Linked DNA regions of Homo sapiens: regions 1, 2 and 4 are each linked to region 3. The links come from fine-mapping of genetic effects on gene expression. A gene starts in region 3. Each other region holds a variant in brackets. All regions are shown on one strand. Distances are from middle to middle.

Region 1 (7,581 bases), 67 kb after region 3:
AAAGTAATTTCCACAGTTAATTACTTAATTCAGATGCAGCTTCTGAAAACTTCACAAGTACACAAAAGCCTATAATATGATGTATTTTAGGAAGTTCAGGAAAGGATGGAAAAGACCCTGAAAAGCACTTTTGAATACAGGTTTCTGACAACTTCATAATCATATCATTTAGACTGGGTGAGAATTCCTGGAACTGTAATGAAAGGACTGACTGGTTTATAAAACTGCTAACCAAAGTAGAACAAAAATTAATTGAATACCAAGAAAATACTTTGCCAGATTTTCATGCTAAATCAGCCAATACTAAAATTGTGTAGATACACAATGAACTCCATGGTCTAAGTCAAATTACTTATGATAACCCATCAGTTATTAGTGCTATGCTCCTAAATTGGAGAAACAACTGGTATTCAAGAAGGCATATGTTCAATGTTAAGCATGGACTCATGGAAAACTGGGATGGCTGCCTTGTCTTTCCTGAGTCCTTAAAGCTCTTGTTATTAAAAGTTCTGCATTCCATGACTCATCACGGAAAAGATAAAATGATCCAAATTAAACATATATTGGTGTGGTGACTTCTAAATTGCTAAAATAGTTTATGACTAATGTTTCATTTGTCAAAGCCATATTCCTGGAAAGACGATCAAAGCTATAGGTAAATTTTGCTACCTGACGGGCCACTTAAACATTTATAGAGGGATTTCATCCAATTATCTTTTTTTTACCTTGAGACAGTCTTACTCTGTCATCCAGGCTGGATTGCAGTGGCATGATCTCAGCTCACTGCAACCTCTGCCTCCTGGATTCAAGCAATTCTCCTGCCCGAACCTCCTAAGTAGCTGGGATTACAGGTGCCTGCCATCACGCCCAGCTAATTTTTGTATTTTTGGTAGAGAGGGGTTTCACCATCTTCACCATCACCATGTTGGCCAGGCTGGCCTCGAACTCCTGACATCAAGTGATCCACCCACCTTGGCCTCCCAAATTGCTGGGATTACAGGTGTGAGCCATCACACCTGGCCAATTGTCATTTTCAATTCACGTTTTCTAGTTGTATAAAAGCTTTCCTATGCAAGAGAGCTAATGTTATGATAGTAGATTATTATGCCATAGTGTATTTTGACAAGGTAAAGAAAGCGTTTTATGGTTCACTGACTGAGTACAATCAACCCCTTCATAATCTAGAACCTGAAGACTGGATCTTCTGAGAACATCAGAAAAACACTGCCCTTGCCATCTACACTGTAGCAAAACTTTGGGACCTTGAACTTTGGGTTCACAATCTCACAACCAAGAAGGGTCCCTCTACACTCTTGGAACTGTACACCCATTGGAACCCTTAAGGAAAAGCTAACCTGGGAAGTTTCTCCTAAGAAAATGGCATCCTTGATGTGGACAGCTTTTCCCAAGATCATGAATCAAGACTTCTCTACTATCATGAGATAGTAGAATATTTATCTTTGAATATTTTTCCCTTTGCTTATGCCTCTATAGACAATAGAGGTGAAAAGGGGGTCTGTTCTGTGCACTTATGGGGTATACTTTTATTTGTCAGGGATTTTGTAGCCAGCTTTATACACAGATAACCTTACATTTTGATAGATGAAAGATGAAAGCCCAACGTAGGTTGAGAAACTTTAACGATACATACATTGCCTCACAGTCAGCCAGAAACAGAACATTGGTTCACTACTCTTAACCCACATCATGGGTTAAAGAGAATATTGCCAGGAGGCCTTCACTCTTCTAGAAGGACATCATTTGTTAGGTCCTTTTTTCGACGGTTTGGAGTAAAAGAGGCAATGATTAGAAATGTATCCCTCATGATAGGCTCTATAGCAGATTCTGCTGTAAAGGCCATGGTTATGCAACAGACTTTAAATTCTCTTGTGAAAGTTATGCTAAATAATAGTATTGCTCTAGATTACTTACTGGCTAAACAGAAGTATCTGTGCACCTGCTGGCACTTGTGGTCTATGGAGAAATACCTCAAATGTACATTATAGAGATTCAGTTGCAGGGGATTAATTAAGAGACTGCTTAGTTACGTGAGTAGACTCTTTATCTAACTCATTCTTTGATCTATTTAGTTTTACGTGGTTTGGTTTATGGAGACCATTGGTAAGGAGCATACTCCATACTCTTGGTGTTAGCCTCCTGATAGTCATAATAGTAGTCTCTCTGGTGTGCTGTATTCTCTCAAAGATTTTAAGTGTTTGCATGCAGCCATCTCTAGAATGTCAAATGGTCTCTCTTCAACTACAGTTTCAAGAGCTGAAAGAAATGTCTGACCATAAGGACACTGTAACCTATAAGTGATGTGCTGAGACCGGAAACCCAAAATGATGGTAACTGAGAGTGGTGCTGAGGCCCTAAGTTTTGGTCACACCCTCACCTAAGTAAGAACCTGACTGAAAGGGGGGAATTTTAAAACAACATTATGGGAGGCCATTGTTTTGGACTGAGCTCATGAACTAGGCCCCAGTGGACCAGACCAAACCAAAATGGAGTTACTCATGCTAAATGTGACATAATCAAACTAAGACTTTAAGAAAACACATAGGTTCTAGACCAGACCAGGTTTTATTTTTCTCCTATAAACAGGATGTTCAGGCATAAGGAGGTACCCTCTACTCAGTCTTTGTTAAGGAGGTACCCTCTACTCAGTCTTTGTTCCTACTTTACAAAACCTGCTGTTCTACTATTTCCCAGTGGGTTTCAAGACCAAATAAGTACATTTATGATGGTATTAGTGACATCAATGACTGAAGTTTTGGTCAATCTCTCAAAATTGAGAAGATGACCAAAAGTGGGGAATTTTTAAATCAAGATTAGCCTATGCCTACTAAAGTATGACAAGAAGAAAAAAAAGTTTAGCCTAAAGCTGCCTCCTTATATATTTTAAGTTGAACCTAAAGGTTTATCTGTACATCGTGAACTGTAACAAGTGGAGGTGTAAACAGACCGTAGCCTACAGTTGTGCCAATCACAAGGTTTTGGCCAATGAAATGTAGCCAATTGTTTGAACTGTGTTCAAATAAGGCAAACTCCAACCTGTAACCAATCCAGCTGTCTGTACCTCACTTTCGTTTTTTGTATGTCACTTTCCTTTTTCTGTCCATAAATCTTCTTCCACCATGTGGCTGCACTGAAGTCTCAGAGCCTACTCTGGCTCAGGAGGCTGCCCGATTCACAAATCATTCCTTGCTCAGTTAAACTCCTTTAAATTTATTTCTGCTAAAGTTTTTCTTTTATCACTACCAAACTACATAAAAGAGCTAATCAATTGACTTAAAAGAAAAGAAATGCTTATCAGATTAGTAAAAATTAGCTCAGACACTTTTAATTCACATGATCTTGGTAATCTTTGGTAAAATTAATTTGTTAAATTTAACCTCAAAACTGTCTCCAGTAATTTAAAAGGTTTAAGTCATATTATGTTAAAACCTCGATTTTTTTTTCCATAGGAAATTTGGGTTACTAAATTAAAATGGAGCATAAAAAATGTTTTTGGCGAAGTTTATAAAACACAAAGATAAGGATTTTGCAAAAAACAAAAAGTGTGTTTCTTTCTAGTTAAGAAACAATTGAAAAGTCACTTTAAGCTGAAGGAAAAAGTATACAAGTAAAAGTAATGGTTAAAAAAACAATTAAGGTCCGGACGCGGTGGCTCACGCCTGTAATCCCAGCACTTTGGGAGGCTGAGGCGAGCGGATCACAAGGTCAGAAGATCGAGATCATCCTGGCTAACACGGTGAAACCCCGTCTCTACTAAAAATACAAAAAATTAGCCGGGCCTGGTGGCACATGCCTGTAGTCCCAGCTACTTGGGAGGCTGAGGCAGGAGAATCGCTTGAACCTGGGGGGCAGAGGTTGCAGTGAGCCGAGATTGCGCCACTGCACTCCAGCCTGCGCGAAAGAGCGAGACTCCGTCTCAAAAAAAAAAAAAAAAAACACAAATTAAGACAGGGAAATAAGTTTATCTCAGAGACCTGTGGCTTCCAAGAAGATAGTTGATGTGGGTGAAAGGCAAAACCAAGTAACTATCAAAACCAGAGGATAGGCTGGGCACAGTGGCTCACATCTGTAATCCCAGCACTTTGGGAGGCCGAGGTGGGCGGATCACGAGGTCAGGAATTCAAGACTAGCCTGGCCATTATGGTGAAACCTCGTCTCTACTAAAAATACAAAAATTAGCTGGGTGTGGTGGTGGGCGCCTGTAGACCCAGCTACTTGGGAGGCTGAGGCAGGAGAATCGCTTGAACCTGGGAGGTGGAGGTTGCAGTGAGCCAAGATCATGCCACTGCACTCCAGCCTGGGTGACAGAGCAAGACTCCATCTCAAAACAAAAAACAAAACAAACCCAGAGGGTATAATGTAAAGGAATGGTTCCATTTTGTAGATTGGTATCATCAGCTTCTTAAAAAATCTTTACTATAGTGGATTGTAAAAATAAACAATTTATGGACAAAATCCTTAATTTTAAATGCTACAGAATTGAAGAACTTGTTTGGGTTAATGCAGAGCCCACAGCTCACTATTGAACAATCACTGATAAGTATATGTAATCTAAATGCACAGGAGGTTATTCCTGAAAGAATGATCAGCTAGCAGACCAGATAAATGCCACTGTAAGGTCTGTTTGCCCTGTGAAGC[G/A]GACTACCCAGCTCTCCCTATAAAATACCAAGTGAAGCACCCCAGATGAAGCAGTTATTGAATAATATGCTTCATATGAGAGCAATGACTGGCTTTATGATAACTGGGATATCCTCCCACTGAAGATGCCTATTACCCAGGTCATGGGAAATTTGGGGGTTAAGAGGTCCCCTTTTACATAAGTTTCCCTCTTGCAAAATCATAGGACTGTTTGAGAAGCCTTATCAAATTTGCTGTTCCTGGCCAGGTGTGGTGGCTCAGGCCTGTAATCCCAGCACTTTAGGAGGACAAGGCGGTCAGATCACTTGAGGTCAGGAGTTTCAAACAAGATGTTTGTTTACCTTGGAAATGCCCTTCGTAAGCCAAACAGCTCATGAAAGCTGTCTATCAGGCACTGCAGAATTTAGCAGCTCCTCACATACATAGTTAGAATCAGTCCTAGGGAGAAAGCGGCTCCCTGCTTATGAGTATCTCCTCCTTGTATCCCCAGGTGGCAAGATTTTATTTTATCATGGAACTCTTTGGGGCATCATTATTTCAGTTAGCATAGGGGTAGCTTCAGTTAACATTTCATAGCAAGGCAGTAAATGCACCTCAAGTGGAAATTCTCTAGTCCGGTAGTTGTCATTGGGAAGTACTTATAAGAGTTTTTTGTTTTGTTTTGTTTTTTGCCATTATCCCCAATAAACACTCCACAAAGGGCTATGAAGGGGATGATTTGTCCCAACTAGTACTCTAGCTTCTACCTGATACTTTGTGGGCTCAGGTGATTTTACTATTTCCCATTAACATGTCCAACTAACACTTTTCAAAAGAGCAGCTTTACATGTCTTTGGTTTTATAGTACTAGATAGGGGAAGCATCCTCCAGCTAGATACAATACCCATTTTCATAAGACATTTAGGCAAAGAGATTACAACTACGTTACATAAACCCTGTTTAAACATCTTAAATTTCATAATTCTATTAACCTGTACATTTTTTGGTTCTACCCCCAGATGATTTTACCTTTCCTGGCAAAAAAAAGGGCTTGAGTTCCCAGCAGGGAGTTGCATCTGTAAGACCCATGAGGAATGGCAGTTTTTTTTTGTTTTTTTTTTTTTTGAGACAGAGTCTCGCTCTAGTGCCCAGGCTGGAGTGCAGTGGCACAATCTCAGCTCACTGCAACCTCCACCTCCCAGGTTCAAGTGATTCTCCTGCATCAGCCTCCTGAGTAGCTGGGACTACAGGTGTGCACAACCACACCAGGCTAATTTTTGTATTTTTAGAAGAGACAGGGTTTCACCATGTTGTTCAGGCTGGTCTCAAACTTCTGACCTCAGGTGATCCACCCGCCTCTGCCTCCCAAAGTACTGGGATTACAGGCATGAGCCACCATACTGGCCAACACTTTCATTATTTTCTTTCTCTCTCTCTTTTTTTCTTTTAGCAACCACAGGCAAAACAAAGAGGAGCACTACTTTAATAATGACAATACACAACCTAAATTTAAATGAGAAGACTTTTGTGATCCATAATGGAACACAAATATGGTAGAGGAAAGGGTGTGGAATCGGGCGTTAGACAAACCTGGTTGGAGTTTTTTTTTCTTAATAGGAAGGCATGGAATTTTTTTTTAAATCAGCTACAACAGCTACTCAGGAGGCTGAGGCAAGAGGATTGCTTAGGCCCAGGAGGTCAAGGCTTCAGTGAGCCATGATCATGCCACTGTACTCCAGCCTGAGTGTCAGAGTGAGACTCTATCTCAAAAACAAAAAAAAATAGTGATAATTTTTCATTACAACACTTAAATTGTTGTTGAAATAATAAATATAAAAGGCTTGGTATAGTAGATGCTTAATAAATCATAGTATCTCTCTCTCCTAGAAGATTCCAAGGCTGGAAGCTAGGAGATCTGGCCCCTAATGATGCAGGATTTTTCTTGGCCCCTTTGACAAACTCATGGAAGGGGGCGCCTTGTCTACCAGGCCCACCACAATCAACCACTTGCAGGAGGGAGCACATGAGCAAGCAAGTTCAAGATCCAGCCAGCCACTCTGGGCACTGGCACAGGAGCAAGCTCTGTGTGGGGCCTGTGGCCAGACCAGGCATGTTGCCTCAAGAGGAACACTGCAGTGCCCAGGTGAAAGTGCCCATGACCCTGAAGCCTCAGAGCGGGTGTTACAGTGCTCCTTTAGTTTCATCATCCACAAACAGCAGTGTGTTAGTAGCTCAGTTGGCCCTTTGCCTTGTCACGTGGGGCAGCTGCCTTCCACTGGTGGGGGCAAAGGACCAGTGTGACAGCCTTTCTGGGTACCTGTACTTGGTGGGTCCCAAGCTCTTGTCCAGTGTCCAAGAAGAATGAGGTCACATGCAGGATTGAAGGATGGCGGGCCAGGTGCGGTGGCTCACGCCAGTAATCTCAACACTTTGAGAGCCTGAGGTGGGTGGATCACCTGAGGTCAGGAGTTTGAGATCAGCCTGGCCAACATGGTGAAACCCCATCTCTACTAAAAATACAAAAACTTAGCTGGGCGTGGTGGCAGGTGCCTATAATCCCAGCTACTTAGGAGGCTGAGGCAGGAGAATTGCTTGAACCCAGGAGGCATAGGTTGCAGTGAGCTGAGATTGCACCATTGCACTCCAGCCTGGGTGACAGAGCAAGACTCTGTCTCAAAAAAAAAAACAAAGAAAAAAACAAAGAAGGATGTTGAGGGCAGAGAATTTTTTTTAGTGATGAAAACGAGTCTCAGCAGTGAGGGGAGCTGGAGAAGGGACAGGAAGGGCAGGTCGTCTTCCTCAAAGTCAGGCGGTCTCCCACTCTACTGACTAAGTCAGGGGTCCTTATAGGCACAGGATGGGGAGTATGTGCAGATTGGTTTGTGGCTATGCAAGAAAGGTTAAAGCAAAGGCACCACTCAAAGGTGGGCACAACAGTGTAGAAAA
Region 2 (7,581 bases), 98 kb before region 3:
GGGACTAAAAAGAGATCCCATATATTGCTTGCGTCAACATAAATGGATCTGGAAAAGCAATAAGCATCACCCGCTCCTAGCGGTTACATTTAATTTTGATATAAATGTAGATTCACATGCAGTTATAAGAACTCATACAGAGAGCTCCTGATTCACATCTTGTATAACCATAGCACAATTTCACAGCCAGGAACAATCCACCAACTGTATTCAGATTTCACCAGTTTTACGTGCCCTCGTGTGTGTGTGTGTGTGTGTGTGTACATGTAATTAGTTCTGTGCAATTTTATCATATACTTAGATCCACATAAACATTGTTATAGCAAAGTACAGAACAGTTCCTCCCTCCCTCCTCCACTCTACCGCTGTCAACCACTAATCTGTCTTTCTGTCTTCCATCTCTATAATTTTGTCATTTCAAAAACGTTTTGTAAATGGCATCATATAGTATATAATCCTTTGAGACTGGCTTTTGTCTCTCAGGAAAATTCCCTTGCAATCTATCCACATTGTTGGGCATATCAATAGCTCATTCTTTTTTATTGCTGAGTTATATTCCATGATATGGATGAATTACAGTTTCTTTATCCATTCACCCATTGAAGTACATTTGGGTTGTTTCCGATTTTTGACTATTAGAAGTAAAGCTGCTTTGAACAATTTGTATACAGGTTTTTGTAAGAACATATGTTTTTATTTCTCTGGGATAAATGCCCAAGAGTACAATTGCTGGGTCATATGGTACGCACATATTTAGTTTTGTAAGAAATTGTCATACTGTTTTCCAGAGTGGCTGTACCATTTTACACTCTTAACAGCAATGTCTGAGTGTTCTAGTCTCCAGTTCCTCACCAGCATTTGGTGTTGTCATATTTATTTCTTTTATTTTAACCATACCAATAGGTGTGTAGTGATATCTCATTGTGGTTTTAATTTGCATTTCCCTAGTGACTAATGACATTGAATATCTTCTCTTGTGCTTATTTGCCATCTGTATATCCTCTTCAGTGAAATGTCTAATCATGTCTTATGACCATGTTCTAATTGGGTTGCTTGTTATTTTACTGTTTTGTTTTGAGAGTTCTTTATATATCCTAGATACAAGTCCTTTGTCAGGTACTTGGTTTGCAAATATTCTCCTCCAGTATGTAGTCTTTTCCTCTTCTTCACAGGGTCTTTTGAAGAGTAAACATTTTTAATTTTGACAGCGTCCAGTTCCTCACTGGATCATCTTTTTTTTTTTTTTTTTTTAGATGGAGTTGCGCTCTGTCGCCCAAGCTGGAGTGCAGTGGCTCCATCTCGGCTCACTGTAACGTCCACCTCCTGGGTTCAAGCGATTCTCCTGCCTCAGCCTCCCAAGTAGCTGGGACTTCAGGCATGCACAACCACCACTGGCTAATTTTTGTAATTTTAGTAGATATGGGGTTTCACCATGTTGGCCAGGCTGGTCTCAAACTCCTGACCTCAAGTGATCCTCCTGCCTCGATGTCCCAAAGTGCTGGGATTACAGGCGTGAGCCACTGTGCCCAGCCTGGATCATGCTTTTGGTGTCAACTCTAAGATCTCTTTGCCTCACCCTAGATCCTGAAGATTTTTTCCTGTTTTTTTTTAAGAGGTTTATAGTTTTCTGTCTTACATTTATGTCTTTGATCCATTTTGAGTTAATCTCATCTAAGGTATGAGGTTTAAATCAAGATTCAGTTTTTTTGCATGTGGATGTCTAATTATTCTAGCACCATTTGAACAACCCCCTGTTGAAAAGCAATTTGGCAATATTTATCATAATCCACAAGAACGTTCATAGCTTTTTTTCCTGTCACTTCTGGGAATTCATCCTAAAGAATAATGCAGAAACTTTTAAAAAAAAAAAAAAAAAGCTATAAGCTTAGAAAATATTCACTGTAACATTTTTTATAAAATTGAAAAATTGGAAGTAATCTAAATACCTAACAATAGGAGACTGGTTAAGTATGGCACACACATGAAATAATATGCAACATTTAAAAATATGTTTACTCAATAACTTTCACCCATTCAGCAAATGTTTACTCCATATCCATATGTGTTCGTGCTGAAGATAACATGGTGAGCAAATTAGACATCATCCCTGCCTTCTCAAAGCTCATAGTCTAGAAGAGAGGATAGAGAAAACAATTCTGGCACTTAGAAAAATAGATTTGCTAAACTAGAGGGAAAAAACAGAAAACAAAATTGCATGCACAAGGTTATTGAAACTATGTTAAAATATATGGGTGTAGGAAAAAATCATTCTTTAAGGCGATTGGATCGAAGACAGGTTTTTTTCACCCTGCTTTCCATACCTTCCATAGTATTTTCTTTTTATGATAATAACAGCAGTAAAGAGCAAAGCTTCAATTGCAAAATAGCTTCTTGCCACGAAAAGGTTAGGAATGTCCATTTGAAGAGGCAGCAGGCTCCCGTACAGCAATCCAAAGGGCATGGAAAAGGCCACAGCAGACAGTGAGGTAGCTGGTGCCCAGCTAAGTCATGCTGGATTATTCAGTCCATCAGCAAGTATCCACAGAGCGTCCACAAGGTAACCGGTATCCCATGAGGCACTCAGAATGCTTGTTTAAGAATAGACAGTCCCTGAGCTCTAGAGGCACTTATAAGAAATTCTGATCTCCATCTTCCTCAGGCTTGCCTGGTCCTTCACACCTCACAATGTGCTACCATGTATACGCCCTCATACAATACTCACAACAAACCTGTAAAGTTGTCAGGGAGAATCTAATTATCCCCATTTGTTAGCCACTAAGGCACAGAGAGCTTGAGCAACTTGCCCAAGCTCACACAGATAGTAAATGACAGGCCGGGGGCTTGGACCTGGCCTCCCATCGCTAAGGCCAATGCTGTTCTCAGAATACCACAACTGCCTCAAGAACAGCTGTGATAACAGAGGGCTCAGAGCAAAGGAATAATTAGCAGAGAGCCATCATTAGAACTGAAGTCATGGGGATGAGAAGGCACCGCCTACCACTTCTGGGCCTTTTGGCCAAGATCAAGTGTAGGAAGCATGAGCTACGGCAGGGGGTGGGCTCCCCTCCCCTGGGGTGGTGGGGGCTGGGGGTCCAGGCAGTGAGGGAAATGGGATGCAAACACCTGGGCTCACCTCTCCTCCCTCTCCACAGATGGTGAAGGCAATCCAGGTCCTGAGAATCCACCTGCTGGAGCTGGAGAAAGTCAATGAACTCTGCAAGGACTTTTGTAACCGTTACATCACCTGCCTCAAAACCAAGATGCACAGCGACAACCTGCTCAGGAATGATCTAGGGGGGCCCTACTCCCCCAACCAGCCCTCCATCAACCTTCACTCACAGGTAACACCCAGAGCTGGGTCCCATCTCTTAAGCCAGGCTCCTAAGCCCAGCTCTGGAGCCACGCGTGGAGGAAGGTCCCCTGGTGACCTTCACTGGGTTAGACCCACTGGGTTCCTTTGCCATGAGGGCCCTCCTCTGATGCACTCTTCTTCATATCCATTAGGCCATCCCATCCCTTTTTTACACACAGTCTGCCCTGCCAGGGCATTAGTATTCCCTTGAAAATGACCAGATCGGAGAGGGACAATGTCCAAAATCATTCCTGGCTTCCTGGCCCAAGGTATCCCCCAGAATGAGCACCAGAGCTAAGGAGAAGGAAAGCTCTCCTGGAGGATGAGCTGGGACAGGCTTCTTAAGAGGCTGCGGCTTGCTGAGCCATCTGCATTTCTGGGAAAGGGCATTTGGGGAAAGCAGTCATTCCCTGAATCCTGCCCACCTAATGGGTGAAGCCAGCTTCCCATGGGCCTGCTGCTCCCTAATCATTCTCCAGGCACTCACGCTACTCTGGCATCTCTGTCCCCCTAAGGTTCAGGGCCATGGTCAAGGTCACCTCAAACCACCCTGTTCCCAGGTTCCCCTGCCACCTCCTTCCTGAGACCTGGGAAATGCAGAAATGCTGACTACACGCTTTGGGCAAGATGGGGTTTCCCCTCCAGGGCAGGATATTTTCCCCAAACCTACAAACCGAGAAAGCTGCCTGGCAATACCTTCCCGCCCAACTCACAGACATCTGCATAAGCCACAGGCTTGAGACTTTGTTCCCCTTCCACTGAGCTCCTGAGTCCTGGAAGACACCTGGAGGGTCCCCAAGGAGTCCTCTGTAGCCTCTTCTCATTAAACAATCAGGCATGGGGATGCAGGTAAACTTTCTAGGAGTGAGTGCCGAGAGGTGCTGGAAGTAGTGCCAAAGAAAGGCTGTGCCGTTTTTGTCCCTAGACCCCTAAGGAACCACCCATGTACTCTATCTCCCCAGATTGGTGGAGTCAGGGGAGGGGACAGGCTGACTTCTAGAAGGCCAGCCTTGCTTTGCACATTTTGACAACAAGCACAAAAGATACACTCGGTATCACATCCAACCCACCCCAGTGGGCTCTTTGTGAGACTCCGTAGTGAGTACTGCCCAGGACATAGGGCAAGAAGTTTACTTCCTCTTCCTCTCGCTTGAAATCACCAAGTCACTTTATTACAGATCTAAAAACACCCGCCCGGGCTTCTGCCTGCTAATATTCTCTTGAAATAGACTCATTCCTTCAGAGTCTTATTGTACTTTCCCTTATGATCAAAATTAGCAAGAAACTTGCATAAAAGAGGACAATAATTGCTCAACGAGCATCTCGTTTGTAATTTATTAGTTTCTATTATTGTGGGTTACCATGGTGACGCTGC[G/A]CAGTCCCGGTGATGGGAGAGATGCAAGATAGGAGCTGAGGAGGCTGTGAGGCCTCGCCAAATGGAGATGCACATTTTTATCAGTAATTTTCATGAAAATAATAAGTGAGGAGTTAATGAGATGGAAAGCCATCCTGTGGCTATTGTGAATTTTTTTTAAGTGTTGATCTAATTAGAATGCATCGGTCAGGAAAAGTAATGAGGATTTAGTGCCTCACAGAGATGTGAGGATCATATCAGAAAATTAGCACAAGTCTTTGGAAATAATCAGGTCCTTGGAGAGGCACTGGATTTCCCCTCCTGGGCCCTCCAACTCCACCTCGAGCTCTGGAGCTGGGGGTGCACCAGGGTAGTGGGGGAAGGAAGGAGGGGCAGAGGGCTTAGCAGCCACCTCAGCCCCCTCAGGGTTGGAGGTCTGAGACTGACAAGTTGGTCTGCAGAAACCAGTCGGTCACTGGAGAAGTGGGGTTTGCAGAAAAGGATAACGCGGACTCTGGATGGTTAAGTTCTCAGAGATGCTGCCACCTGCAAAAATCAGTCCCCCTGGAGAATCCCGGCACTCAGCCTTCTGAGCTTTGAGGAAAGACAGAAGAATTTTGATTCCTATCACTGGAAGCATCAGATCTCTGCCTGGAAGTGAGGCTGGCCCTGGGGTACCCACGGCAGAAAGGCCATTGATCAGCTGGGAAAGAGGAATCAGACAATTGCGTGGTGGGTGTGGGGGAGGGGGTGATGCAAGCGAGGCACTGAGAAAGAGAAAAGACACTAGTGAGGTATTCCTACTTGGTATTACTCAAACTTGTCCCTGCATTTTCTCTGACTGCCACCACCTGCTTTGTTCTGGCTTCGGGGGTAAATACGGTGATTACACATAGGCTATGACAGGAGCTTCCTAACCTGCTCTCCTGGCCATCCCTCAGCCCACCTGCACACCCATGCATCTCTTAAGCTTCTGCTGCTGGATTCATCTTTCTAACTTTGTTCATGTCATTCGCCTGCTCAGAAACCCTGCTTGCCATGCCCCTGGGGGTGGAAGGGAGGGCTTTCACATCTGCCCACCTGACATTCAAGGCCCTCCTAGGTCTGGCTTCAGCCTTCCTGGGTGGGCCAATCTGACTGTTCAAGGTGCTGTAACCATCACTCCATGCCTGTCTGTTCGGGTGACACCTCCCCCACAACCCCATCATCTCTGCACAACCAAACCCAGCTTCTTCCCCAAGGGTAGGAACAAGGCTGCTCACCCAGGAGGACTCCCTGATGCCCCATCCAGAATGGACGCTTCCTGCACTCCACTAACTGGTGGAGCTTGCTGAGCCATCGATATGGCAAAAGTCACTGTGACTTTATATTATAGATCCCTGTGTTCATCTCATTTTCCTATCCTAGATAACACTTTTTGAGCAGAGACAGTATTTTACATGTTTGAAATCACCAAATCACCTTATTATAGGCCAAAAACAGCCATTTCCAGCCTCTGCCTGCTGATAGTCTCTTGAAATAGACTCATCCCTTCAGAGTCCTAGTGTACTCTCCCTGTGACCCCAGCAGTGGCTACCACAAGGTCTTGTGCAAGAAAGATGGCCGGGAAGTATTTATTGAAAGAAATAATGGAATGAGAGAAAGAAAGTTGGGTGGGGGGCAGGGGCAAGGGGAAGCCAAAGGAGGAAAGGAGAAATAGGAAGAAAAATAAAGGGAAAGAAAGCCAAATATGCAGGGTCAACATTCAGGAGGGAAGCAGAGACAGGCTGAAGAATTGGAGGAAAAGAGCAAGAGAGAGAGACAGGGAGGCACACAAACCCAGGAAAAGGGAGACGATACTGAGAACGACGGGGCAGAAGGACAGACGGAGAGAGGAACGGCAGCAAGAGTGACAGCAAGTGAAAGGACAATGCATGTGGCTCAGTGCGCAGCCAGGGTACGAGGAGGCGGGAAAGTCAGGAGGATGTGCTATGTGCTGCTCCTGTTGTATTACTCAAACTTGCCCCTGCATTTTCTCTGACTGCCACTGCCTGCTTTGCTCAGGCTTCAGGGGTAAATACGGTAATTACACATAGGCTATGGCAGGAGCTTCCTAACCTGCTCTCCTGCCTTCTCTGGCCATCCCTCGGCCCACTTGCACACTCACACGTCTCTTAAGCCTTCCCAGGACAGGCCCCTGTCATTATTGCACTAAGGTAGGGGCCGGGCTTGCATGGGCTCTCCCAGGAAGGAGAGGCCCAGGGCTGCTAAGAATCGGGGACCGAGACTTTCAGTGCAGGAGGCAGGTCTTGGGTTCAAGACACAGGAGCCTGTATGAGAGAGAGAAAAGGAGCTTGTGAGTGTGTGTGTGTGTGTGTGTGTGTATGTGTGTGCACACGCGGGCACATGCATTCGTCATGGTTCACCCTTAATCCCCCCGGCCTGAAATAGCCTGAGCACCAGCCTGGCCTGGGGAGGGGTGTCTCCCCTCTGGAACATGATCCTCTGGATCAACATTCCAGCCGCCTGCCAGCTTTGTTGCAAACTGCTGGCTCATGGTTTTCCCTGTGTGCTAATCATCCAGCCTTGTGTTGCAAAGCGGGAGACATTTTTGTTTTCAACTTGGTATCCCCACTCCCAGATGCTATGCCGTGTCCTCCATCCAGATCGATGGGTTGAGCGTTTTCCTGCTCGGCCTTCGATTTCTCTGTGTGAGTCTTCTCTGCTGGGCAAAGTGGAGATGGGAAGTAAGGGAGACTGTTCTACCAAGCAGGGGACTAAAGCAGACTTTCAAAGACCTGGGCCACAGCTAGATTTTCCCCCTCCCTAGGAACCCATCCTGTGCTGCAGGCACCCAATGACACCCAGGCTTCCTACTCCTCAGAGCCCAGGCTTC
Region 3 (7,581 bases):
GTTGATTAAGGCAGTACTCTGTGATGGCTAAGAGCATAGGCTTTGGGTTCCTGTCCTGGTCCTGTCACTCCTAGTTGGGAGACTTTGGGCAAGTTATCAACCTCACTGTGCCTCAATTTCATCATCTATAAAATGGAGTTTAAAACAGTGCTTCCCTTGAAGATTACTTTTTGGACTAAATGAGATCATCTTTGAAGTGTTAAGTACAATGTGCAGAATATAGAAAGCATCCAATAAATATCAATCATTCTAGAAAAATCAAAGCTGGGCACGGTGGCTCACACCTGTAATCCCAGCAACTGGAGAGGCTGAGGCAGGAGGATTGGTTGAGCCCATGAGTTTGAGGCTATAGTGAGCTATGATCACACTACTGTATGCCAGCCTGGGTGACAAAGTGAGACCCTATCTTTAAAAAAAAAAAAAAAAAAGTTAAAAATAATTCTAGGAAAACCAGGATAGCTAACTTACATAGAAATGTGATGTGGGGGCTGGGCACAGTGGCTCATGCCTGTAATCCCAGCACTTTGGGAGGCTGAGGTGCGTGGATCACCTGAGGTCAGGAGTTCAAGACCAGCCTGGCCAACATGGCAAAACCCTGTCTCTACTAAAAATACAAAAAAAAAAAATTAGCTGAGCATGGTGGCAGGTGCCTGTAATCCCAGCTACTTGGGAGGCTGAGGCAGGAGAATCGCTTGAGCCCAAGAGGCAGAGGTTGCAGTGAGCCGAGATCATGCCATTGCACTCCAGCCTGGGCAACAAGAGCGAAACTCCATCTCAAGAAAGAAAGAAAGAAAGAAAGAGAGAAAAGAAAGAAAGAAAGAAAGAAAGAAAGAAAGAAAGAAAGAAAGAAAGAAAGAAAGAAAGAAGGAAAGAAGGAAAGAAGGAAAGAAGGAAAGAAGGAAAGAAGGAAAGAAGGAAAGAAGGAAAGAAGGAAAGAAAGAAAGAAAGAGAGAAAGAAAGAAAGAAAGAAAGAAAGAAAGAAAGAAAGAAAGAAAGGTGATGTGGGAGTGCTTCAAGTAAAAGAAAAATTATCCCTGCCATGATATTCTCTGTGCAATGCTTCAATATGCTTATCAAACAAGAGAACTATTGCTGAAAGAATTTTAGCATCTTTTTTACTAAGGCTTCTTTTTTCAATTTATTTGTTCAAAGGTTCCTGGATCGTGGGTTCCATTTTACAGAGATATGAAAGCCAATCCGATAGTGTTGCAGGTATTTACACTGCCTTTAAATTTGTACTTTTCTCTGGGAATGACAGGGGAGAAGCAGATGGTGACACCAGTGGGGTTTCTGATTTGAAATGACACAGTCTATATGATTAACCAGCAACAAGAGGCCAATCCAACCAGAATCTAGGACTAAGACTGAGTTTTGAGTGTTGGCAACAGGAAGAGTGTGCTGAAAGCACTCTGCCCAGGCAGAGTGTAGAGAAAATGGATTCATCTAGAAAATTATAAAAGACGAAATGAATATCACAGCTCTAGGGTTCAGACACATGCTCATTTGAAACAGTCCATAATATAGACTGATTGTTTTTTGTCAACTCATTATCCAAGAGCCAAGAAGTGCTGCATGAATGACCATCTGGAGATGAAGTTAAAGTGAAAGCCAGTGCTGGGAAACTAGTCACTCAACACCCAAACTGAATCCAGCATTTGTGGAAAGACCTCAGGCTGTGGCACAGATGAGAGTCAGGCGTTCTGACTGGCCCCACTATAGCCTCCAGGAGGGCTCTGTGGATTGGGGTTGGCAGCACTTCCTTAGATGGTGACCCTGCCTTCCTTCCTTTAGCCCACTTTCTTTCGCCCTCCTCTCTTCACGGAGTGCTTTCATCCTTCAACTAAAATGTCTGAAACAACCTTATTTTCCATCCTGGCAAGCTTGCACCATCCTCATTCATAGCTCATCTGGGAGCCTTCTTTTCCTTAAAGTAGGATTAATACAAGCGATAGCTTATTCCCTTTAGACTTCCAAGATCAAAAATAAATACGTACATACATGAAAATGGCAGAAAGAAGGAACCATGGGAGGGTCGCCTTTTCTTTTTCTCTTTACCACAGAACAGAGCGCAGGACTATAGTCTGATTGTCCTACAATCTATTCCATTTATTTTCACTCCCAATAGATGGTGTAATTTGGAAAAGAAAAGACACTCACGGGGCTTAACAGAGACCCAGTAGGAAACGCATAAACGTCTCCCTGCAGCACAATGATGCACTCGCTGCATCTCGGGGCTGCGGTACAAATGCTCAGTCCCTGCTTTGCTGAGCTGACCCGAGTGGAGCGGAGCGGTGGAGATTTCACCACGCTAACCCCGCTGGGCCTCGGCACCTCCACACAAGCCCCATTCCATCTCCTTCTTCCCATCACTTGGTCCATAGATCAACTGATTCCGTGCCTCGTCCCCCATATCCGTCCCTAAAACCTACCCTGCACTGATCCACCTTCAGATTTCCCACTGCTCCTCCGCAGAACCCACCCAGTGTGCATGTTTGTGCACATTTTGACAGAAAAAGTATTTCGTTGCATATGGATCAGCAACCCCTTCGCGGTTCTGCTTGCTCCCCTCCCCCTCCTCCCGCTGCTCCATTCACCTCCATCTCAGATCCCCCTCCTCCCCCCAGTCCGGTGGGGTAAAGAAAGCCTCCTCCAGGCAGCACAATGGCTGGCACTCTGAGGAAGCCGGACTCATCCCGTGCAGGCCGCATACACACTCCACTGCCCTTCCGGCCAAACAAGCCCGGACACGGGAGAGGGATGAGAGTCGGGGATGCCTAGCGGCGAGGAGAGAAGGGATAGGCAAAAGGGAAGAAGAGCGGGCTGTGATACCTCCTCGACGCCGTCAAACACTGCTCCCCGCATTCCAGAGCCCGGGGCCCACCCGACGGCAGCGCGCCCCGCCACCGCGCAGCCGCCCCGGTCCCTTCTCCCGCCCGTCTGTAGTAAAACAATCGCTCTCCCGGCGTCTGCGGCCGCTGCCAGCGGTTCTGACACTGCAGGAATGCGCGGTCTGGGGAAGGCTCCGCACTCTGGGGAGGGGCACGAGCGGGGTCGGGGGTAAGTTTTTAGGGACAAAGATGATCTTGGGGCGTTTACGGTGACTGGACCAGATAACGGTCCCGGGACGAGGTACCGACCCACTGCCCCAGCGCGATCGGGCGGCGTTCCCTTCTTCCCCCAGCCCCCATACCTCGCCGCCCTGCCTTCACACGCGCGCACACACGCGGGCACACACACGCGGACACACACACACACACACACACACACACACACACACCAGGCCTGGCTGGAGGGCCGATGCTGAGATGATACTGGAAGTGCCCATCATCCCACATCTCCAGGGCCTGGCGCGGCGTCCCAGCTGCGCTCCCTGAAGGGCTGGGCAGGAAGGCGACGGCCTCCCGTTGTTCCTTTCTAATCCCAGAATGGGACCAGGTGAGGGGAGCTGCGGCGACCCCAGACCGTCCTGTCAGAGAATCCCGGGGCCTCCTTACCACCCCCACCAGACCCCACCCCCAGCAGTGAGTCGGGTCCTAACTAAAGTCAACCCCCGCGACGGCACCTGTGCGGGTCCTGGCGGAGGGAGGCGGATCCCGGGGCTCAGCCGGACACCCCCATCCACGGGCCGCGGGAGCGGCCGGAGCGCAGCGCAGCGCAGCGGAGAGCCAGCCAGCCAGCCAGCCAGCGAGCGCTCCCCGCGCAGCTCCGGCGGCGCCCGGCTCCGCTCCCGCCTCCACCCCACCCCTTCCCCGCGCTCGTGCCCGGGCTCCGGGGGCGCGCCCGCGCTCGGGCACCCACCCAACTGGCACGCGCGGGAGCTGGACGTCATCCCCTCGTTAACATTCATAGCCTTCCTCCGAGCACGTGGGCTTGCCTTTATTAATATTTATGCATTTCTGTTTCTCTCCTCTTTAACATTGGCCTTTCTGCTTCCCTCATGAATATTCAGAAACTCCAAGATGAAAGCGTGCAATAACTACCAATATGGATACCTCGCAAAGCCTGACACTAGTTTCTGGATAAAATGCAGGCGATGGCTGCTGGCGGATGCCGGCAGACACACTCAAAGACCCTTTTGGACTTTCCGAGTTTCCCATTCTCCTCTACTGGAGGCTGAGGCGGGCAGGCCCAGCGACGTCTCCCAGCTCCAACTGGGTTCGGACCTCAAGCCAAAAATGAGGAGGCCGGCAGGAGAGCTTTTCTCGCCCAAAGATGCTGGGTGGGAGCTGGATCCAGCTGAAAAATCTGAGTGAGAAGGTTTCAGGCCCAGGAGGACTTGAGATAATACAGGAAAATTCAAGAGGCTGAAATGAGAAGGGTCCCTGGAGTCTTGTGAAAAATTATTAATTTATCTTGTCTACTGTGCATAGGCCTGTGCTTATAGAAGTTGTCAATAAAAAATCTAATAATTCACGAATACACACAACTAAGAGCACAAGAACTGTAATTATCGAAGGAAGGCACTGGAAAAAGCATGTCGGCTTGGAGAACCCCAAGTACTTTTGTCTGATGGCAAAGTACCTCTGGGCTGAACTGAGGACTTCAACTGGAAGGGGCAGGGAGCGTCTCTTTTGCTCGTTTATGCATTCATTCCACAGACATTTCAACCATGAGAAGGATGGAAACAGGAATAATGTCCCAATGAGATGAGAAGAAGCGTTGGCCTATTTGCCTTTGTGGGAGCAATAGACAGAGGATGTCTTCCTGTAAGAAATCATAAGGCCAGGCACGGTGGCTCACACCTATAATCCCAACATGTTGGAAAGCTGAGGCAGGAGGATCACTTGAGGCCAGGAGTTCAAGACCAGCCTAGGCAACATAGTGAGACCCCATCTCTATAAAAAAAAAAAAATTAGCCAGGCATGGTGGGCCCATCCTGGTAGCCCATCCTGGTAGCCCCAGCTACACTGGAGGATGAGGTGGGAGGATCGCTTGAGCCCAAGAGGTTGAAGCTGCACTCCAGCCTGGGCGACAGCAAGACCTTGTCTCAAAAGTAAATAAATAAATAAATAAATCACAAAGAGTAGCTGGTTAAAAGATCCCTAGATCTCCTTTCTTGGGATCATGCCCAGTTTTGTGACCTTGGGTTAGTTAACTTCCCTGTGGCTCATTTCCTCATCTGTAAAATGAAGAAAATAATAGTGCCCGCCGGGCGCGGTGGCTCACGCCTGTAATCCCAGCACTTTGGGAGGCCGAGGCGGGCGGATCACGAGGTCAGGAGATCGAGACCATCCTGGCTAACACGGTGAAACCCCATCTCCACCAAAAATACAAAAAATCAGCTGTGCGTGGTGGCGGGCGCCTGTAGTCCCAATTACTCGGGAGGCTGAGAATGGCGTGCACCCAGGAGGCGGAGCTTGGAGTGAGCCGAGATTGCGCCACTGCACTCCAGCCTGGGTGACAGAGCGAGACTCCGACTCAAAAAAAAAAAAAAGAAAGAAAATAATAGTGCCCCACTCTATTGTGGCCTGTTGTGGGATTAAAGGAGTGAATATGAGTAAAGTACTTCCAGGTTTATTAGAAGGCACTATATGTATGTATGTGTGTATATATATACACACACACATATATATGTCATATATATGTCTCATATAGATGTCCCATATATACGTCTCATATAGATGTCCCATATATATGTCTCATATAGATGTCCCATATATGTCTCATATAGATGTCCCACATATATGTCTCATATAGATGTCCCACATATATGTCTCATATAGATGTCCCACATGTATGTCTCATATAGATGTCCCACATGTATGTCTCATATAGATGTCCCACATGTATGTCTCATATAGATGTCCCACATGTATGTCTCATATAGATGTCCCACATGTATGTCTCATATAGATGTCCCACATGTATGTCTCATATAGATGTCCCACATGTATGTCTCATATAGATGTCCCATATATATGTCTCATATAGATGTCCTATATATGTGTGTGTGTATATATATATGTGTGTGTGTATATATATGTGTGTGTGTGTATATATATATGTGTATATATATGTATATATATATATGTCTTGGCTAATTTGAGGCCATCTTTTGTCTAGATCTTCAGAGCATGGGACAAACAGATTTGAGAGAAGCTTGTGAAGTACTGAAAGTGATAAAGAACTTGGTCTTCAGCTGGTGACCTTGTTAGTTATCCTCTCTGTACCTCAGTTTTCTCATCTGTAAAATGGAGATGCCAATATCTGCTGTTGGATGCCAATATCTACTACAAGGTTGTTGTTATGCATATTAAGTAATATAATGCATGCAAAATGCTTAGCACAGTGCCTGGCATATAATAAGAAACCAATTAGTGGATTCTGTGGTTATTTTTGTGAGGCTATGAAGAAACTGAAAGCTGAGGACAAGTAGCCTAGGCTAGGTACCTAGGATGAGAAATCCCTGAACATGAGCCCAGTTATTCTTCCAGCAAACACTTATTTTATTGTAGTAAGATATATATAACATAAAAATTACTATTTTAACCATTTTTAAGTGTACAATTCACTGGTATTAAACACATTCACATTGCTGTGTAACCACCACCACTATTCATCTACAGAAATTTTGTTATCCAAACAGAAACTCTGTATCCATTAAACACTAACTCCCCAGTACTCCCTTCCCCAGCCCCTGGTAACCACTATTCTAATTTTGTCTCTAAGAATTTGACTATTCTAAGTACCTCATGTAAGTGTAATTATACAATATTTGTTTTTTGTATCTGACTTATTTCACTTAGCACAATGTTTTCAAGGTTAATCTATGTTGCAACAATGTCAGAATTTCTTTTCTTTTTAAGGTAAATAATATTCCATGGTATGTATATACTACATTTTGTTTATCTATTCATCTGCCCATGGACATTTGGATTGTTTCCACCTTTTGGCTATTGTGAATAATGCTACTAATCTGTCATGGGATTAGAGTGAGAAAGAAAGAATAAAAAAATAATGCTGCTGTCAACATCGGTGTACAAATTCCAGCAAGCATTGGTTGCATTCCATGACCTAGGCTAGAAGCTGGGGAGCTAAAAATGAAGGCATGCTTTCAAGAGGTTCCATGTTTAGTATGTTGATTTCCAAACTCTGCTGCTTAGAACCTGCAGTGGATTGAATGGTATTTTCCTAAAATTTGTGTCTACTCAGAACCTCAGAATGTGACTTTTACAGATGTAATCAGTTATGATGAGGTCATACTAGATTCGGGTAGGCCCTAAATCCAATGACTGGTGTCCTTATAAGAAGAGGAGAGGAGGCTGGGCATGGTGGCTCACACCTGTAATCCTAGCACTTTGGGAGGTGAGTAGATCAACTGTGGTCAGGAGTTCGAGACCAGCCTGGACAACATGGCGAAACCCCATCTCTACTAAAAATTAAAAAAAAAAAAAAATTAGCAGGGTGTGGTGTCACATACCTATAATCCCAGCTACCTGGGAGGCTGAGGAAGGAGAATCGCTAGAACCGGGGAGGCGCAGGTTGCAGTGAGCTGAGATCATGCCACTGTACTCCAGCCCAGGTGACAAAGCAAGACTATGTCAAAAACAAAAACAAAAAATACAAGAGGAGAGCATGCAT
Region 4 (7,581 bases), 24 kb before region 3:
AGATTTGCTGGTATTCTTCATCAAGAATAATGAGACCCAAGTGTCTTCTTCCAACCCAGATAAAAAGGGACTGCATCCTCTCAGCTCAAAAGGACTGTAGACTTCACTCTGAGCAGGTTGAACTGGAGGTTCTGGACTCAGAGCACCAGGCCACCTAAAAGTGAGGGTGAGGGTTCTCACCAAAAACAGAGAGAGGATGTAAGACTCTACAGAATGACTCACCAGACAGACCTCTGGCCTCCTTCCCTGAGTAGGCTCCAAGGACACTGGCAGCTGGTTTATTCTGTCCATCAAGCCATTGGAGAACACCTCTCTATGGATGCTATAAGTCTACAAATACATGCCAACTGTCAAGATCTCCGAACAAGACGCATAGGTCCTTACTGGCACTGTGATCCAGCAGGAAACAAGCCCTGACCCCATAGCCTTCTAGGGCCTCACTTTCTTTTTTTCCAAGGGTTTCCCTCTGTCACCTAGACTGAAGGGGAGTGGCTTGATCTCAGCTCACTGCAACCTCTGCCTCCCCGGCTCAAGCAATCCTCCCACCTCAGCCTCCTGAGTAGTTGGGACTACTGGCGCATGCCACCATGCCCAACTAACTTTTGTATTTTTTGTAGAGATGGGGAACTTGCCATGTTTCCTAGGCTGGTCTCAAACTCCTGAGCACAAGCAATTCACCTGCCTCGGCCTCCTAAAGTGTTGAGATTACAGGCGTGAGCTATCACCAGCCATTTTTTTTAAAATTAATGTTTTTAGAGACAGGGGCTTGCTCTGTTGCCCAGGCTGGTGTGAAATGGTGTAATCATAGCTCACTGTAGCCTCAAACTCCTAAGCTCAAGCGATTCTCTAGCCTCAGCCTCCCAAGTAGCTGGGACTACAGGTGCATGCCACCAGGCCCAGCTAATGCTTTTTTTTTTTTTTTTAATTTTTTGTAGAGACAGGGTCTTACTGTGTTGGCCAGGCTGGTATTGAAAATTCTGGGCTCAAGTGATCCTCCTGCCTTGGCCTCCCAAGTAGTTGGGACTGCAAGTGCACTCCATCCCCTGGCTACCTTTTTGTTTTTTTTGTTTTTGTTTTTTGGTAGAGTTGTAGAGATGGGGCTGGTCACAAACTCCTAGGATCAAGGGATCCCCCTGCCTTGTCCTCCCAAAGTGCTAGGATTATAGGAGTAAACCACCATGCCTGGCCATAAAGCCTCACTTTTAAATATGAAAAGATGCTCAAGGATTGCCAGACATTTGAGAATAGCCCCCAACATGAAAGATGAAAATGTATAGAGAAGAGAAATCAAAAGCAACAGAGAGAGCAGAAGAAACCTCTTCTAAGAAACTGCTATACCTGCCTTCAGAAGGATAACAGAACACCTTGCTTCCTCAAAATGTGTCCTATTTATCAGAATTCATTTAAAAACTACAAAGATGTACACTTACTAAGACCAGAAAAAAATTTTAAAAACACACAAATTCTGTAAAAACTGGAAAGGGCTCTTAGAAATTAAAGGTATGATAGAAAATTTAGACTTTTCCATCGAGCTGAAGGCTGAGAAAGTTCCCTGGAGAGTGAAACAAAATAAGCAGATAGAATTATGGGCGGGGAAAAATATTCAGAAGATCAGCTTCAGAAGTCCAATACTTGAATAAAAGGAATTCTAGAAAGCAAAAACAGAAGAGATGGCCCCTTTCAGCCATGACAGAGTAACTGGTATTGGACTTATCCCTCCTACCATAAACAACTACAATCTGGACAAAATCTATGAGCCAATTGTTTTCAGGCACTGGACACAGGCAGTGCAAGGCTGTGTGTTTTGAAAGAAGGGAAAAACATGAAATAAATGAGATAAATAAATGAAGGCTAAAGGAATCTGTCACCTGTGGCTCTACACCAAAAGAAATGCTATAAAAAGCATTTTGGGTTGAAAGGAAATGATAGAAAATCAGAATCTTCAGGAAAAAATAAGGAATGCCAGAAATGATAAATACATAGGTAAATATTTTAAAAGTATCTTTTTTTTCCTTCTTTTGATTTTCTTAAAAGACAACTAACTGTCTAAAGCAAAAATAATAACTTTGTGTTGTGGAGTATATAATGTAGATTGAAATAAAATATATGACAATTATAGCACAAAAGATGGAAGGAATAGACTTTATACTGTGACAAATGTTTTACATTTTATGTAAAGTGTACAATATTAATTCTAAATGGACTATGATTAATTAATAATGTATAGTGTAACCCCTAGAGAAACCACTAAAGAAAAATACGACAAGGTATAGATAAAAATCCAACAGAAGACATAAGATGCAAAGCCAAAGAATATTTGATTAACCCAAAAGAAGACAAAAAGTGTGGAACAGAGGAACAACAAAACAGCAACAAAACCAGATGGGACAATCAGAAATGAAGACAATACGCTCCAACACAAATTATCAATATTATGCCAAATGTCAATGGACTACACACTATGCAAATAAACTAAACACAATAATCAAGAAGCATAAATTGTCAGACTGAATATAAAAACAAGATCCAAGTATACACTACCTGCAAAAACACACTTTAAATAAAAAGACAGAGATAGGCAGAAACTAAAAGGATTGAGATAGATACACACACACACACACACACACACACACACACTTTGCAAACAGTATGCATAAGAAAGCTTAAGTGGCTACATTCATATCAAACAAAGTAGATTTTAAGATAAGCATTACAGAGAAAGAATGACATTTCATAATGATAAAAGGGTCAACTCATCAGGGAGATGTACTCAGAGCTTCAAAATATATAAAACAAAAATCAACAGAACTAAAGAAATAGAAATAAATGCACAACAATGGTTGGAGATTTTAATAAACCTTTCTCATTAATTGATAGAATAAACAGACAAAAAATATCATTTGGAACACAGGAATTCAACAATACTATCAACCAAGTTAACCTGGTTGACATTTATAGCACATTACAACCAACAATTGCAGAATGTGCATCATTTCCAATGGCATATATTACATTCACTAAGACGTACCATATGCTGGACCCTAAATCAGTCTGAACGTATTTTAAAAGATTTAAGTCATACAAAGTATGTTCTCTGACAAAATTAAATTAGAAATCAATTTTTAACAAGATAGCTATAAAACCTCCCAAGCACTTTGAAATTCAGCAGCAAACTGCCAAATAACCTATGGGTTAAAGAAGAAATTGCAAGAAAAAATTAGAAACTATGTTTTTAATTGAATGATGAAAACATACCCAATCAAAATATGTAGAATTCAGCTAAAACAGTGCTTAAAGGGAATTTTATAGCTTTAAGTTTTTTTAAGTTTAAAATATAATCAAATTTCCTACCTTAAGAAGCTAAAAAAATGAGGGCAAATTAAACTCCTACTAAGTAGAAGGAAGGAAGTAATAAAGCTAAGAGAGGGAATCAATAAACTAAAAAGTTAACAAACAATAAAGGAAATCAAAGAAATAAAAAGTGGTTCTCTGAAAAGATTAATAAAGGTGATAATCCCACAGACCAGCTGACAAGAGAGAGTGAGAGAGGGATGGAGGGAGAGAGAACACAAATTAACAATGTCAGGAATAGAAAAGGGAACATCACTATAAATCTTACAGACATTTTCAATAACAAAACAAAATTATAAACAAATGAATGTTCAATACATTCAATGATTAAATAGATAAATTCCTTGAGAAATGTAACTTATCAAACCTGACTCAGTAAAATTGAATTTGTAACTGAAAATCTTCCACAGAGAAAACCCTAGGCCCAGATGCTTTCACTAGTATAGTCTATCAAACATTCA[G/A]GGAAGAAATAATACCAATGTAATACAAATTCTTTCACAAAGTAGAGATAGAGAGGATAATTTCCAACTTATTTTATGACATTAGAACAAAATAAAATTTCAGAAAAAGAACATGATGCAAAAATCTTTAATAAAATATCGGCAAATCAAATCCCACATTATATAAAAAAGATAAAATATCATAACTAAGTGGGGTTTATTTTAAAATAAAATGCTGGTTTAATATTTGAAAACCAATTAATGTAATTCATCACATTAACATGATAAATTGATCTACATATATAAATTGGTCTGTAGATTCTACACAATCAAAGTCAAATTTCCAGCAAGATTTTTTGCAAAAATTCATCTGCTGATTCCAAGATTTATATGGAAATGTAAATAACCTAAAATAACTAAAACAAATTTGGAAAGAAAAAAAAAGGACACAGTTGGAGAACTTATATTACTTTATTTCAAGACTTACCATAAAGCTACAGCAATCAATACAGTGTGGGATTGGCATAAAGATAGACACATTTTAAAATAAATTAGGGATGATAAAAAAAGACACACACATATATATATCATTGAAACAGAAAAAAGAATTCAGAAGTAGATCCGCACATACATGATCAATTGATTTTCAACAAAGATGCCAAAACAATTTAATGGGGAAGGAATAAGATTTTCAATGAATGGTACTGGAATAATTGAATAGCCATATGCAGAAAAATAAACCTTGAAGCCCAGCACTGTGGAGTGCCTCGGTAGTCCCAGCAATTGGGGAGGCTGAAGCAGGTGGATGGCTTGAGCCAAGGAGCTCAAGACCAACCTGGGAAACAGCAACCTGGGAATCAAAAATTTTAAAAAATGAGCCCTGACCCTTACTCCATACTATATACAAAACTAATTTGAAGGCTGGGCACAGTGGCTCATACCTGTAATCCCAGCACTTTGGGAGGCCAAGACGGGTGGATCACTTGAGGTCAGGAGTTCAAGACCAGTCTGGCCAAAATAGTAGAACTCTGCCTCTACTAAAAATACAAAAATTAGCTGGGCATGGTTGCAGGCACCTGTAATCCCAGCTACTCAGGAGGCACAGACAGAAGAATTGCTTGAACCTGGGAGGTGGAGGCTGCAGTGAGCCAATATTGAGTCACTGCACTCCAGCCTGGGCAACAGAGCAAGACTCCATTTCAAAAAAAAAAAAAAAAACAGAAAGAAACTGATTTGAGATGGATCATAGACCTAAATACAAGAGCTAAAATTATAAAACTTCTAGAAGAAAACTTAAGAAAAAAATCTTAGTGACCTTGGGTTTAACAAAGATTTCTTAAATACAACATAAACACAAAGTATAAAAAGGAAAATATCAATAAATTGGACCTCATCACATTTAATTTTCCTTTTCTTTTTTTTTTTGAGATGGAGTCTCACTCTGTTGCCCAGACTGGAGTGCAATGGTGCAATCTCAACCCACTGCAACCTCTGCCTCCCGGGTTCAAGCAATTCTCTTGCTTCAGCCTCCTGAGTAGCTGGGATTACAGGCACGTGCCACCATGCCAGGCTAATTTTTTTTTTTTTTTTTTTTGTATTTTTAGTAGAGACAGGGTTTCACCGTGTTAGCCAGCATGGTCTCAATCTGCTGACCTCGTGATCCACCCACCTTGGCCTCCCAAAGTGCTGGGATTACAGACATGAGCTACCACGCCCGGCCTAATTTTTCTTTTTGAGAGGGGATCTCACTATGTTGCCCAGTCTGGTCTTTAACTCCTGGCCTCAAGCAATCTGCCCACCTTAGTCTCCCAAAATGCTGGGATTACAAGCTTGAGCCACCACACTCAGCCTTCATCACATTTAAAAAACATTTGCTCTTCAAAAGATAATGTTAAGAAAATTAAAAGGCAACCTATAGACTAGGAGAAAATATTTGTAAAACATACATTCAACAAATAATTTTTATCTAGAATTTATAAGAAACTCTTATGGCCAAGCACGGTGGCTCATGCCTGTAATCCCAGCACTTTGGGAGGCCAAGGCAGGCGGATCACAAGGTCAGGAGTTCGAGACTAGCCTGACCAACATGGTGAAACCCCGTCTCTACTAAAAATACAAAAATTAGCCAGTCATGGTGGTGTGCATCTGTAATCCCAGCTACTCAGAAGGCTAAGGCAGGAGAATCACTTGAACCTGGGAGGCAGAGGTTGCAGTGAGCTGAGATTGCACCACTGCACTCCAGCCTGGGTGACAGAGCAAGACTCCAACTCAAAGAAAAAAAGAAACTCTTACAACTCAATACTAAGAACACAAACAATGTACTAAAAAAATGCACAAAAGATTTGAAGAGGCATTTCACCAAAGAAAACATACAGGCCGGGCACAGTCACGCCTGTAATCCCAGCACTTTGGGAGGCCGGGGCAGGTGGATCACTTGAGCTCAGGAATTCAAGACCATCCTAGGCAACATGGTGAAATCTCATCTCTTCTAAAAATACAAAAATTAGCTGGGTGTGGAGGTGTGCACCTATGGTCCCAGCTACTTGGGGAGCTGAGGTGTGAAGATTGCTTGAGTCCGGGAGGTGGAGGTTGCTGTGAGCTGAGATTGAGCCACTGCCCTCCAGACTGGGCAACACAGCAAGACCCTGTCTCAAAAATACACACACACACACACACACACACACACACACACACATTGTAAATAATCACTTGAAAAGATGCTCAATATTCTATGTCACTAGAGAAAAGCAAATTAGAACTGAAATAAGGTATCAATTTTGTTACTACCCATGAAGATGTCTAAATTTTAAAGATTGTCCATAACAAGTGTTAGTGAGAATATGGGACAATTACAGCTCTCAAACTGGGCAACAGTTTGGTAGTTCCTTAAAAATTTAGACATGGGAGTTAAATGATGAGAACAAATGGACACACGGAAGGGAACAATACACACTGGGCCCTACTGGAGGATGAAGGGTGGGAGGAGGGAGAGGATCAGGAAAAATAACCAATGTATACTAGGTTTAATACCTGGGTGATGAAATAATCTGTACAACAAACCCCCATGACACAATTTACCTATGTAACAAACCTGCACATGTACCCCTGAACTTAAAATAAAAGCTAAAAAAAAAAAGTTGAACATACACCTACCATATGACTCAGCCATTCCACACATAGGTTTTTATCTAAGAGAAATGGAAGCATATGTTCACACAAAGACCTACAGAAAAATGTTCACAGCAGCTTCATTTGAAATATGCAAAAAGTAGAAAAAAAACTGTTCATCTATAAGCGAATGAATAAGCCGCTGGTGATATATCCATACAACAGAATACTACTCAACAATAAAAAGAAATGAACTGTTGCTATACTTAAAAACATGGATGAATACCTAATTACATTGAGTTTAATAAGCCAGACAAAAGAAAATGTACATATTGCATGATTCCATTCATGCAAAATTCTAGAAAATGAAAACTAATCTACAACGACAGAAAGCAGATAAGTGGTTGCCCAGAGATTGGGCGGTGAGAGAGAGGGATGAGGAATATGTTGAATATCTTGATTGTGGTGATGGTTTCGCAGATATATGCAGATGTCAAAATTTACCGCATTGCTCACTTTAATATGTGCAGCTCATTATATGCCAATTACCTTTCAATTACGATATGGGGGGAAAAACAGAATAAAATAAAATGATAATATATCATGATGAAGTTGTGTGTATCTCAAGAATGCATGGTTGAGTTGACATTTGCAAATTAATTTATGAAATTCATCACATTAA

Direction of the effects. Alleles are on the strand shown, and positions count from the first base shown. SD is a standard deviation of normalised expression in the study named. Not every link is listed here.
As copies of A replace G in region 2, the expression in atrial appendage of the gene that starts at base 3,707 in region 3 goes down (small effect, 0.34 SD a copy in GTEx).

What was found. PIP is the estimated chance that this variant, and not a neighbour inherited with it, causes the effect.
Region 1: its variant is the best candidate, but not a certain one, in a credible set for the expression of FEZ1 in whole blood (INTERVAL, PIP 0.50).
Region 2: its variant is the best candidate, but not a certain one, in a credible set for the expression of FEZ1 in atrial appendage (GTEx, PIP 0.66).
Region 4: its variant is the best candidate, but not a certain one, in a credible set for the expression of FEZ1 in whole blood (INTERVAL, PIP 0.85).

The regions. Positions count from the first base shown.
Region 1 is chr11:125,559,594-125,567,174 of GRCh38, forward strand. No RefSeq gene overlaps it. Among named protein-coding and RNA genes, the nearest start is that of EI24, 6.1 kb to the right of the region's middle. The variant G/A (reference allele first, on the strand shown) is at 4,657.
Region 2 is chr11:125,394,722-125,402,302 of GRCh38, forward strand. It overlaps PKNOX2 (PBX/knotted 1 homeobox 2), which reads left to right. Exons shown (of 13, transcript NM_001382323.2): 7 at 3,153-3,341. Among named protein-coding and RNA genes, the nearest start is that of FEZ1, 98 kb to the right of the region's middle. The variant G/A (reference allele first, on the strand shown) is at 4,728.
Region 3 is chr11:125,492,559-125,500,139 of GRCh38, forward strand. It overlaps FEZ1 (fasciculation and elongation protein zeta 1), which reads right to left and starts at 3,707. Exons shown (of 10, transcript NM_005103.5): 1 at 3,563-3,707. It overlaps LOC403312 (putative uncharacterized protein MGC39545), which reads left to right and starts at 2,656. Exons shown (of 2, transcript NR_164146.1): 1 at 2,656-3,057; 2 at 3,950-6,968. RefSeq lists enhancers at 1,759-2,262, 2,765-3,268, 3,269-3,770 and a silencer at 3,645-3,894.
Region 4 is chr11:125,468,827-125,476,407 of GRCh38, forward strand. All of the region lies in intron 3 of FEZ1 (fasciculation and elongation protein zeta 1), which reads right to left. Among named protein-coding and RNA genes, the nearest start is that of FEZ1, 24 kb to the right of the region's middle. The variant G/A (reference allele first, on the strand shown) is at 3,813.